3 linked regions of the Homo sapiens genome follow. The protein of the gene in region 1 purifies or fractionates together with the protein of each later gene. This does not show direct contact. Each region holds a gene or a part of one and is shown in the gene's direction. Other genes may lie near its edges.

Evidence for each region.
Region 2: the proteins of RDH13 (region 1) and ATAD3C purify together in Homo sapiens (affinity purification with mass spectrometry; one large-scale study listed by BioGRID and IntAct). This does not show direct contact.
Region 3: the proteins of RDH13 (region 1) and KDSR fractionate together in Homo sapiens (co-fractionation; one large-scale study listed by BioGRID). This does not show direct contact.

The regions. Positions count from the first base shown.
Region 1 is NC_000019.10:55,056,517-55,060,165, reverse strand, and holds part of RDH13 (retinol dehydrogenase 13 isoform 1 precursor), read left to right. Parts: intron 1-890; coding exon 891-1,009; intron 1,010-3,357; coding exon 3,358-3,513; intron 3,514-3,649. UniProt on the Homo sapiens protein: Retinol dehydrogenase with a clear preference for NADP. Oxidizes all-trans-retinol, but seems to reduce all-trans-retinal with much higher efficiency. Has no activity toward steroids.
Region 2 is NC_000001.11:1,448,249-1,452,511, forward strand, and holds the start of ATAD3C (ATPase family AAA domain-containing protein 3C), read left to right. Parts: upstream 1-1,440; 5' UTR 1,441-2,435; coding exon 2,436-2,510; intron 2,511-3,797; coding exon 3,798-3,874; intron 3,875-4,116; coding exon 4,117-4,186; intron 4,187-4,263.
Region 3 is NC_000018.10:63,357,070-63,360,718, reverse strand, and holds part of KDSR (3-ketodihydrosphingosine reductase), read left to right. Parts: intron 1-926; coding exon 927-983; intron 984-3,649.

The DNA.
Region 1 (3,649 bases):
AGAGGCTTTCCTCTTTTACCAATCCACCTCAGCACAGACCCTTTACGGGTGTTGGGCTGGGGGACGGTCAGGTCTTTCTCATCCCACGAGGCCATATTTCAGACTATCCCACGGGGAGAAACCTTGGACAATACTCTGTGTTCAAGGGCAGAGGTCCCTGCAGCTTTCTGCAGTGCATCGTGCCCCTGGTTTATTGAGACTAGAGACTGGCGATGACTTTTACCAAGTATACTGCTTGGAAACATTGTGTTAACAAGGCACTTCCTGCACAGCCCTAGATCCCTTAAACCTTGATTTCATACAACACAGGTTTTTGTGAGCTCCAGATTGGGTCAAAGTGGCTGGGTCAAAGCTACAAATTAACAACATCTCAGCAAAGCAATTGTTCAAAGTACAGGTCTTTTTCAAAATGGAGTCTCTTATGTCTTTCCTTTCTATATAGACACAGTAACAGTCTAATCTCTCTTTTCCCTACACATCTGGCTAATTTTTGTATTTTAAGTAGAGACGGGGTCTCGCCATGTTTGCCAGGCTGGACTCGAACTCCTGACCTCAAGTGATCCGCCCCCGCCCCCCCCCACCCCCAAAACTTTGGCCTCCCAAAGTGCTGGGATTACAGGTGCAAGCCCCCTCACCTGGCCGGGAATCTCATGCAGTGAGCATTTATAAAATAATGACTGTCACTTGCTGAAGGCGTTCCACACGCCAGACACTGGGTGGAGCCACTTATGGAGAACATGACAGAGGTCCCTTGGTGTGATGTGATGATGTCTGTGTTTCAGTTGGGGTATGTGAGTGAGCTCAGACAAGGTTGCCTGAGATCATTCAGTCAGGGGCACGTGGGGTGAGAGTGGGCCCACAGGACTGACCGTGCCGCTTCTCACCCTCAGGGACTATGTCACCGGTGGGGCTTGCCCCAGCAAGGCCACCATCCCTGGGAAGACGGTCATCGTGACGGGTGCCAACACAGGCATCGGGAAGCAGACCGCCTTGGAACTGGCCAGGAGAGGTAAAATCTCCCCTGCTTTGGCTCTCAGAGAGATATCTGTACATCCATGCTCACTGCAGCATTATTCACAGTCCGGAGGTGGAAGGAACCCAGGCACCCATCCACAGATGAACAGGGAAACAGAATGTGGCTTCTATAGACAGGGGCATATGATTCAGCCTTAAAAAGGAAGGGCATTCTGGCCGGGCGCGGTGGTGCACGCCTGTAATCAGTACTTTGGGAGGCCAAAGCTGGCGGATCACGAGGTCAGGAGTTCGAGACCAGCCTAACCAACATGGTGAAACCCCCTCTCTACTAAAAATACAAAAATTAGCCAGGAGTTGTGGTGGGCACCTGTAGTCCCAGCTGCTTGGGAGGCTGAAGCAGGAGAATCGCTTGAACCTGAGAGGCAGGGGTTGCAGTGAGCAGAGATGGCGCCACGGCACTCCAGCCTGGGTGACAGAGTGAGACTCAAAAACAAAACAAAACAAAGCAAAACAAAAAAAAGGGCATTGAAACAGATGAACCTTGAGGACATTCCATGAAGTGAAATAAGCCAGTCGACAGAAGAGCAAATACGGTATGATTCCACTTACAGGAGCTACCTACAGTTAAATTCATAGAGAAGTTGGAATGGTGCTTGCCAGGGGTCAGGAGGGGAGGGGAGAATGGGGAGTTACTGTTTAATGGAAACGGAAGTTTAGTTTGGCAAGATGAAACAATTTGAGAGATGGATGGTTGTAATGGTTGCACAACATTAGGAATTATTATTATTGTTTTTTTTTTTTTGAGATGGAGTTTTGCTCTTGTCGCCCAGGCTGGAGTGCAGTGGCATGATCTTGGCTCACTGCAACCTTCGCCTCCCGGGTTCAAGCAATTCTCCTGCCTCAGCCACCCGAGTAGCTGGGATTACAGGCATGCAACACCACACCCAGCTAAGTTTGTAATGTGTTGGCCAGGCTGGTCTTGAACTCCTGACCTCAGGTGATCCACCTGCCTTGGTCTCCCAAAGTGCTGGGATTACAGGTGTGAGCCACCATGCCCGGCCCAGCCATAAATGTTTTTAATACCAATGAACTGGACACTTAAAAATGGCTAAGAGGGCGGGTCTCGGTGGCTCACATCTATAATTCCAGCACTTTTGGAGGCTGAGGCAGGAGGATCACTTGAGGCCAGGGGTTCCAGACCAGCCTGGACACCATAGCAACACCCCCATCTCTACCAGAGTTAGCCAGGCATGCTGGCACAGGTGGTACCTATAGTCCCAGGTCACTTGAGCCTAGGAGTTCAAGGCTGAATGAGCTGTGATGGCGCCAGCACTCCAGCCGCGGCAGCAGAGTGAGACTGACTCAAAAAAAAAAAAATAATAATAAACAAAAAGAAAAGGGGGTTAAGATGATAAATTTTAAGTGATTTGTATTTTACCACAACAAAAAAAATTGGAGGCTGGGCATTGTGGCTTATTTGTAATCCCAGTACTTTGGGAGGCCGCGGGGTGGATCACCTGAGGTCAGAAGTTCAAGACTAGCTTGGCTAACATGGTGAAACCGCTGTCTCTACTAAAAATAAAAAAATAAAAAATTAGCTAGTTGTGGTAGGTGCCTGTAATCCCAGCTACTCGGGAGGCTGAGGCAGGAGAATTGCTTGAACCCAGGAGGTGGAGGTTGCAGTGAGCCGAGATTGCGCCACCGCACTCCAGCCTGGGTGACAGAGTGAGACTCCATCTAAAAAAAAAAAAAAAAGGAGAGGATGGGGAATCCTCTTGCCTTGGCCTCCCAAAGTGCTGGAATTACAGGTGTGAGCCACCGTGCCCGACCAATTCAGTGATGTTTAGTATAGTCACAGAATGATGCAACCATCTTTAAAATCAATCTTAGAACATCTGTTACCCTAGAAAGAAACCTGCTCACTGTAACTATCAAGCTGTAATTCCCTCTCCCCACCCCCTGCCCTAGAAAACCAAGAATCTATTTTCTTTCTCTATGGATTTGCCTATTCTGGGCGTTTCATAGGTGTGAAATCATATACATAGAATTCATGTAAATGGGATTGTACGCTGTGTGGTCTTTCGTGTCTGGTTTCTTTCCCCGAGCACAGTGTTTCTGACGGTCATCCTTGCTGTAGCATGAGCCAGTGCTTCACTCCTTTTCACGGCCGTCTAATATTCCATCTCTATGGATGGACCACATTTTGTTGTCCCTTCATCCACAGATGGGCATTTGGTTGTTTCTACCTTTTGGCTTTTGTGAAGAATGCCGCAGTGAACATTGGTGGATGTGTTTTTGTGTAGACGTATGTTTTCATGTCTCTGGGGTCAGTACCCAGGAGTGGATTATTAATTTAAATCTTTTTCCATCCTGGGTTTTCAGGAGGCAACATCATCCTGGCCTGCCGAGACATGGAGAAGTGTGAGGCGGCAGCAAAGGACATCCGCGGGGAGACCCTCAATCACCATGTCAACGCCCGGCACCTGGACTTGGCTTCCCTCAAGTCTATCCGAGAGTTTGCAGCAAAGATCATTGAAGGTAGGAGAACGCTGGCCATGTGGGATGAGGACTGGGATAGGCGGCTCCCAGGGCCAGGCTCTGAGAAGTGAATGAAGCAAGCAAACTTTAGAGCAGAGTTTTGGCAAACTATGAGTTAGGGGCCAAGTCCAGTTGC
Region 2 (4,263 bases), on another chromosome or scaffold:
TATTAGGAAACTTTCTTAACTCTATTTTTTTATTTTTTATTTTTTGACACGGAGGTCTTACTCTGTCACCCAGGCTGGAGTACAATGGCGTGATCTCGGCTCATTGCAGCCTCCACCTCCTGAGTTTAAGCGATTCTCCTGCCTCAGCATGCTGAGTAGTTGGGATTACAGGTGCTTGCCACTACGGCCAGCTAATTTTTGTATTTTTAGTAGAGATGGGGTTTCACCATGTTGGCCAGGCTGCTGTCGAACTCCTGACCTCAGGTGATCCTGACCTCAGGTGATCCACTCGCCTCAGCCTCCCAGAGTGCAGGGATTACAGGTGTGAGCCACAGAGCCCGGCCTCTTAACTCTATTTCCACAAGAGTTTTTCCTGTTAGTTACTGATTACCCATTGTGTCTTTTTCCTCGAATCACCTGGGAGGAACTATCTTTAAATAAGTGTCGTCCTGTAATGCACTACGGCCGTCTGTGGGTTACCACATTAAGGATAGTTGTCAGTGGCCTCCATGCCTTTCGGTAAGTTGTTTTTTTTTTTTTTTTTGAGACAGAGTCTCATTCGTCGTCGAGGCTGGAGTGCAGTGGCACTGTGTCGGCTCACTGCAACCTCTGTCTTTCCTGGGTTCAAGCAATTCTCCTGCCTCAGCCTCCTGCATAGCTGGGATTGCAGGCATCCACCACCGCACCCGGCTAATTTTTTGTATTTTTAGTAGAGACAGGGTTTCACCATGTTAACCAGGATGATCTCCTGACCTCCTGAACTGCCCGCCTCGGCCTCCCAAAGTGCTGGGATTACAGGCGTGGTGAGCTGCCACGCCGGGCGTACTCTGGCTTTTAAAAGAATGGGGCACATTGCTTTTTCTTGACTACTTCTATCTCTCCTTTTCTCTCTCTCTCTAACTCTGTCTCTCTCTCTCTCTGGCTCTCTCTGTCTCTTTGACTCTGTCTCTCTCTGTCTGTCTCTGTCTCACTCTCTAACTCTGTCTCTCTCTCTGACTCTGTCTCTGCCTGTCTCTCTCTCTCTTTGACTCTCTCTCTCTCTCTGACTTCCTCTGTTCCCTCTGTCAGTCTTTCTCTCTCTTTGACTCTGTCTCTCTGACTCTGTCTCTCTCTCTCTCTGACTCTCTCTCTCTCTCTGACTTTCTCTGTTCCTTCTGTCAGTCTTTCTCTTTCCTCTAAGATTTTTTTCCCTTTCTCTTAGAATCTCTTCTACAGGCTTATTTTTCTAGTTCTTTCTTTTGTAATTTGTGGTTAATATCTGGCCAACTGTTAGTGACAAATTCCTTGCCCAAGAGGATCCTCGACACCTCGACCAGCATATTTTCTCATTTGTTCTTTTAATCTGTCTAAAAATTATGTCGCAGGCCCTTTATCTTTTCCTTGCTGTATGTTAAATATTCGGGTAAGATTCTGGGTTCCGGGCATGGATTCTTTAATCCCCTTCATGATTAACTCCCCAAGGTCCTGCATATTTTCTCAATGGGCCACCGCGCCCGGCCAGAAGATTTTTATGGTAAAATTTTGTGATGGGAAAACTCATCCCGGAAAATGTTGAGACCTGATGCTGAGTCCTCAGCAGCTCAGAGAATACGTACTTCTGTCCCAGGTCACCCAAACATTGACCTGTGTCGGTTCCCCACTAGGAACAAAATGTAACTGAGGACGTTGTCAGATGCTTGTCCTCGTCACCCTGAGCTTGTTGGCTGCTATCTAATTCTTATTCTTTCATTTTCTTGCCCGCACGTTCTTGATAGCAGATCACTGACAACAGCCATTGGAAGCTTAGGAAAAGGGTATGTGCCGGGCGCGGTGGCTCACACCTGTAATCCCAGCACTTTGGGAGGCTGAGGTGGGCGGATCACGAGGTCAGGAGATCGAGACCATCCTGGCTAACACGGTGAAACCGTCTCTACTAAAACTACAAAAATTAGCCGGGTGTGGTGGCGGTCGCCTGTAGTCCCAGCTACTCGGGAGGCTGAGGCAGGAGAGTGACGTGAACCCGAGAGGTAGAGCTTGCAGTAAGCAGAGATCATGCCACTGCACTCCAGCCTGGGCCAGAATGAGACTCCGTCTCAAAAAAAAAAAAAAAAAAAGCATGTGTAACGTGAAAAAATGGACACTTTAGCCATCGCCTGACTTTCTGTTGAATTGGGAAAGAGCCTCCTCCCGTCCACATGGGATGGCCTTCCTGATGTGGCTCTCCAAGACCATCCCTGGAGGGCATAAAACCTCACAAATGCATCAGGCCGTGTGCTGGGGATGGGGCATCGTCACGCCAGGTCTGACTAGGAAGGAGGATGGGGAGGCAGGGCTGGGGGCTTTGAGGTCGAGGCGTGGCCGTGGATTCCAGAAAGCCCCTTGGCTGGTGTGCGTGCCTGCCCAGCGGCATCCGTGTATCCTAACACCTGCCCTCCGTGTCCCTGCATCTGCAGGCCATGTCAAAGGACGCCCTGAATCTGGCGCAGATGCAGGAGCAGACGCTGCAGTTGGAGCAACAGTCCAAGCTCAAAGTGAGTGGGGCCGGTGTGGGCGGGGAGGCCGGGGCACACATGGGGTTCGGGCGTGGAGATTGGTAGGGCTACTGCCGGTGGGTAGGGCCGGGGGTGTGTACATGGGCAGCAGTGGGGCCCAGGGCCAAGCTTGGGCGCCTCATTTCACAGAAGGAAACAAGGGGAGGTGAGAGACGCTGCCGCAGAGCCGCCCGAGAGGGAGGGCCGGTGTTGGTGAGGGCGTCTGGTCGTCCTGAGGGCCTGGATCTTCTTGACATTCTCACCTCATTTCTTTGACTCAGCAGGATTTTTTTTTTTTTTGAGATGGTGTCTTGCTCTGTCGCCCAGGCTGGAGTGCAGTGGTGCGACCTTGGCTCACTGCAAGCTCCACCTCCCGGGTTCACACCATTCTCCTGCCTCAGCCTCCTGAGGAGCTGGGACTACAGGCACCTGCCACCACGCCCAGCTAATTTTTTTTGTATATTTAGTAGAGATGGGGTTTCAGCGTGTCAGCCAGGATGGTGTCGATTTCCTGATCTCCGCCTGCCTCAGCCTCCCAAAGTGCTGGGATTACAGGCGTGAGCCACCGCGTCCAGCTCAGCAAGATTTTTTAATTTTATTTATTTTGAAACGGAGTCTCACTCTGTTGCCCAGGCTGGAGTGCAATGGTGCGATCTCAGCTCACCGCAACCTCTGCCTCCTGGGTTCAAGCCATTCTCCTGCCTCAGCCTCCCAAGTCGCTGGGATTACAGGCACCCACCACCATACTCGGCTAATTTTTGTATTTTTATTAGAGACAGGGTTTCACCATGCTGGCCAGGCTAGTTTTGAACTCCTGACCTCAAGTGATCACCTGCGTCGGCCTCCCAAAGTGCTGGGATTACAGGTGTGAGCCACGGTGCCCGGCCGGTCACCTTCAGTCCTGAGCTCACAGGCGGGGTTCACGTGTTGCCTGTTGTGGGCATTGTAGCTTTAACGTTTAATTGGCAGAAGACAGAAGCTTCCTTAAGCCCAGCCTGAATCAGGGCAGTGGTGTTGGGAGGTCGGCCAGCAGTGGCCCTTGTCAGGGAAGCCACAGTGGGGGCTGTTTCTGCCGCTGGGGAGTTTGGGCCCCTGAACCCATCCCCTCAGTGACTGCCGTCCCGGCCGATGTCACCCGTGTCTGTGTCAGGGTGCGGCGTCTGCAGGTCCCCAGGTGCCCGGGACGCTTGGAGCCCTGCGGTCCTGGGGCGGACGCAACCTCTGGATTGGTGTTGAGCATTTTTCTGGTTTTAAAGGCTTTTCTCTTTTTCTGCGGCTTCTTCTCAGCAACTTGTCAATGAGGATTTACGGAAGCAGGAGGAGTCCGTGCAGAAGCACCATCAGACCTTCTTGGAGTCCATCAGGTGAGCGCTGCCGAGGCCCGGGCCGGCCGCAGATGGAGCCCCCACAGGTGTGAGTCGCTGGTCCCAGGGTGCTCTCCAGCTCTCCCAGGTCTGGCCGCTGTAGGCTGGCTCCTTGGTGGGGACACTGCCCCCCTGTCCTGGCAGGACCAGGCTGCTGTGTCAAGGCCTCACCCTCAACCTGTTCTTGCTACGTGGCGTGGGTCTTTGTTTCCCTCCTGGTCACACCACTGCTTTCCCCACAGGGCGGCTGGCACCTTGTTTGGGGAAGGATTCCGTGCCTTTGTGACAGACCGGGACAAAGTGACAGCCACGGTAAACATACTCATAAAACAGGGCTGGCAGGTGGCTGAGGGGCAGCATGTGGGGGCCTCCTGGAGCCACAGGTCCTA
Region 3 (3,649 bases), on another chromosome or scaffold:
TAGAGACGGGGCTTCACCATGTTGCCCAGGCTGGTCTCAAACTCCTGAGCTTGGGTGATCCACTCACCTTGGCCTCCCAAAGTGCTGGGATTACAGGGGTGAGCCACCATGCCTGGCTGAGAAATTCTTTCTTTTCTAATGTAATTTTTAATTCCAGTCTTTGCAAAGTCAAGCTGTATGTATCTTTAGTCATAGGACAATATTATTTCATTATAGACATATTCAGGTTTAGAAACTCTGCATGCCTTTTGGAAGAATTCGCCTCTCCTTTGGTTCCTCTCTATTGCATGATATTATTTAAGTTACTTTTTACAGCAAATTAAGATAATCTGATATCTGTTTTCTTGAGACTAAGTAAAACAAACAAAATTAGGACCTTGGAAGAATTACATAATTACACAGGTAACCTTGCTTAAGAGTATTTTATAGTAGCCAGGCCTAGTTTACCCAGTCTATCCAGAAAGTGATTCTTACTATGTTTGGGTTTATAGTAGAAGAAGAAAATATTGGACAAAAAGCAGTATTGACAGGGAGTCACACATACCCTCAACTTTGGGGAGCAGTACATATTAATAGAGTTGTTCTTGTCTTATATCACAACTAAATAATAAGACATTTATTAGAACTGTAGAGTCAGCCTCAGCAATTAGTACTGTTAACTGGGATTTTGAGGTTTATCTGTTTTCTACTATCTTTCTCTAATTAATTTTCAAACTTTTATCACTTATTCATAGCTTAACATACTTCACAACTTCTTTCTTTCATAGGCTGTGGCCCAGTCTGTCTATGCAATGTAGATACTGTTTTGTGTGTTTTCTGGAATTTAATACATACATATAGAAATAATTGCTTTTTTTCTCTCCTTTGCAATAAACGGACATGCATATAGACGGTCATCACGACTAATTATTCTGTATTGCTTTCAGGATAAGCTGCTGCAGGCAAAGAAAGAAATTGAAATGCACTCTATTAATGACAAACAGGTAAATCTCTGTCTTCAGAATGCATTTTCTGTATAACTCAGCACAGCTGTATAAAGGAAAAACAGAGTTACTTCACCTGTGAATAGTTAATTGAAAGCATATATGTACTGTTTTTTAAAAGGTGGAATTGTTTGAATGGTCTAGTAACTCAGAATATCACACACACGCAAAATGAATAGACTCCCACACACATTCATATCTACAAATGGTCAAATAACAGAATGTTTTACTGGCAAATAATTTCATTTTAATTTTTTTTTTAATGAACTTTATACAAATGCTTAAGAGGAAAGGAATATTTAAAATTTATTTGGTTATGGAATTTTTGATGAATAAAATGCTATTTATATTTCAGTATAAAACATAATAGCAAATTAATAATCACACACCCATCACCCAGCCTAAGAAGTAGAAATGATCAGGGTCTCTGAAGCCCCCACAGCAGCCTTGTCCCTCTTTTCTTGTTCCTAGAGGGGCAAATGCCAACCCGATTTTTGGTGTTAATCCTTTCTTTTTCTTTTCTTTTTTCTTTCCTTTTTTTTTTTTTTTTTTTTTTTGAGGCAGTGTCTCAATCTGTCATCCAGGCTGGAGTGCAGGGGTGCGATCTCAGCTCACTGCAGCCTCGACCTCCTGGGCTCAAGCAGTCCTCCCACCTCAGCCTCCCTAGTAGCTGAGATTATAGACACGTGCCATCATGCATGGCTAATTTTTGTATTTTTGGTAGAGATGGGGTTTCGCCATGTTGCCCAGGCTGGTCTTCAACTCCTGGGCTCAAGCAGTCCGCCTACCTCTGCCTCCCAAAGTGCTGGTATTATAGGAGTGAGCCACTGTGCCCTGCCTCTTTTTCTTTTTAATTTTACCATATATGCACATAACTCTAAATAATAATATATTGTTTAGTTCTTTTTTTTTTTTTTTTTTGAGACAGAGTCTCTCTCTGTCACCCAGGCTGGAGTGCAGTGGTGCCATCTTGGCTCACTGCAACCTCCACCTCTCGGGTTCAAGCGATTCTCCTGCCTCAGCCTCCTGAGTAGCTGGGATTACAGGTGTGTGCCACCACACCCGGCTAATTTTTTTTGTATTTTTAGTAGAGACAGGGTTTTACCATGTTTGTCAGGCTAGTCTCAAACTCCTGACCTCAGGTGATCTGCCTGCCTTGGCCTCCCAAAGTCCTGTGATTATGGGCGTGAGCCACCATGCCTGGCCAATATACTTAGTTCTACTTCTTTTATTATATCATTCTTATTTTTTAACAGCTTTATGAGATATAATTTATATACCATACAGTTGACCCATTTAAAATATATAATTCAATGATTTTTAATGTATTCATAGAGTTGTGCAACTGTCATCAAAATCAATTTTAGAATGTTTTCCTCACCCCGTGAAGAATCTCCATGTGTATTAGCAGTCACTTGCCATTTCCTCCCAGCCTCTTCTCAGCTAGGCAGTCACTCATCTACTTTCTTTCTCTATAGATTTGTATAACTTCCTTCTTTATGCTTCTTATGCAACTTGATTTCTTCACTCAATATTATTATTATTTATTTCTTATTTATTTATTTATTTTTGAGATGGAGTCTCGCTCTGTTGCCCAGTCTGGAGTGCAGTGGCACAATCTCAGCTCACTGCAACCTCTGCCTCCTGGGTTCAAGCCTCAGCTTCCTGGGTAGTTGGGATTACAGGCGCGCGTCACTACGCCCAGCTAATTTTTGTATTTTTAGTAGAGACAGGGTTTCACCATGTTGATCAGGCTGGTCTCGAACTCCCAACCTCGTGATCCGCCCGCCTCAGCCTCTGAAAGTGCTGGGATTACAGGTGTGAGCCACCATTCCCAGACCACTCAATATTATTCTTTAGGCCAGGTGCGGTGGCTCATGCCTGTAATCCCAACATTTTGAGAGGCCGAGACGGGCAAATCAGTTGAAGGTAGGTGTTTGAGATCAGCCTGGACAAAGTGGTGAAACCCTGTCTCTACTAAAAATATAAAAAGTTAGCTGCACCTGTAACCCCAGCTACTCAGGAGGGAGGCTGAGGCAGGAGAATCACTTGGATCTGGGAGGCAAAGCTTGAGGTGAGCAGAGATTGCACCGCTGTACTCCAGCCTGGGTAACAGAGGGAGACTCCATCTCAAAAAAAAATATATATATATATATATATATATGTATGTATGTATGTATGTATATATATGTGTATATATATATATAATTTTAAAAATTCATTTATGTTGCTGCAAAAAGTTGGAGTAAATTTTTTTTTTTTTACTGCTGCGTAGTATTCTATTGTATGTATAGACTACATTTTGTTCATCAGTTCAGCAATTGGTGGATATTTAGTTTGTTCCCAGTATTTTTGTTAGTTTGTTTTGTTTTTTACTATTAGAAAAGCTTTCAGTATTCTCTTTGTGCACGTGTGCAAGAATGGTACATACCCAGAAATGGAATTGCAGAGCTGTAGTGTATGCAGTTCTTCAACCTCACCAAAGTGGTTAAGCTCCCATAAGTAGGAATGCGGTTTCTGTTGCGCCACATCCCTGCCAATACTTGGTATTGACAGACTTTTTACTTTTTGCCTTTCTGATGAGTTTTGAATAGTATTTCACTGTGGTATTCATTGACTTTTTCCCTTCTAGAATGTTAGAGATCTTTCCATGTGCATTAAGTAAA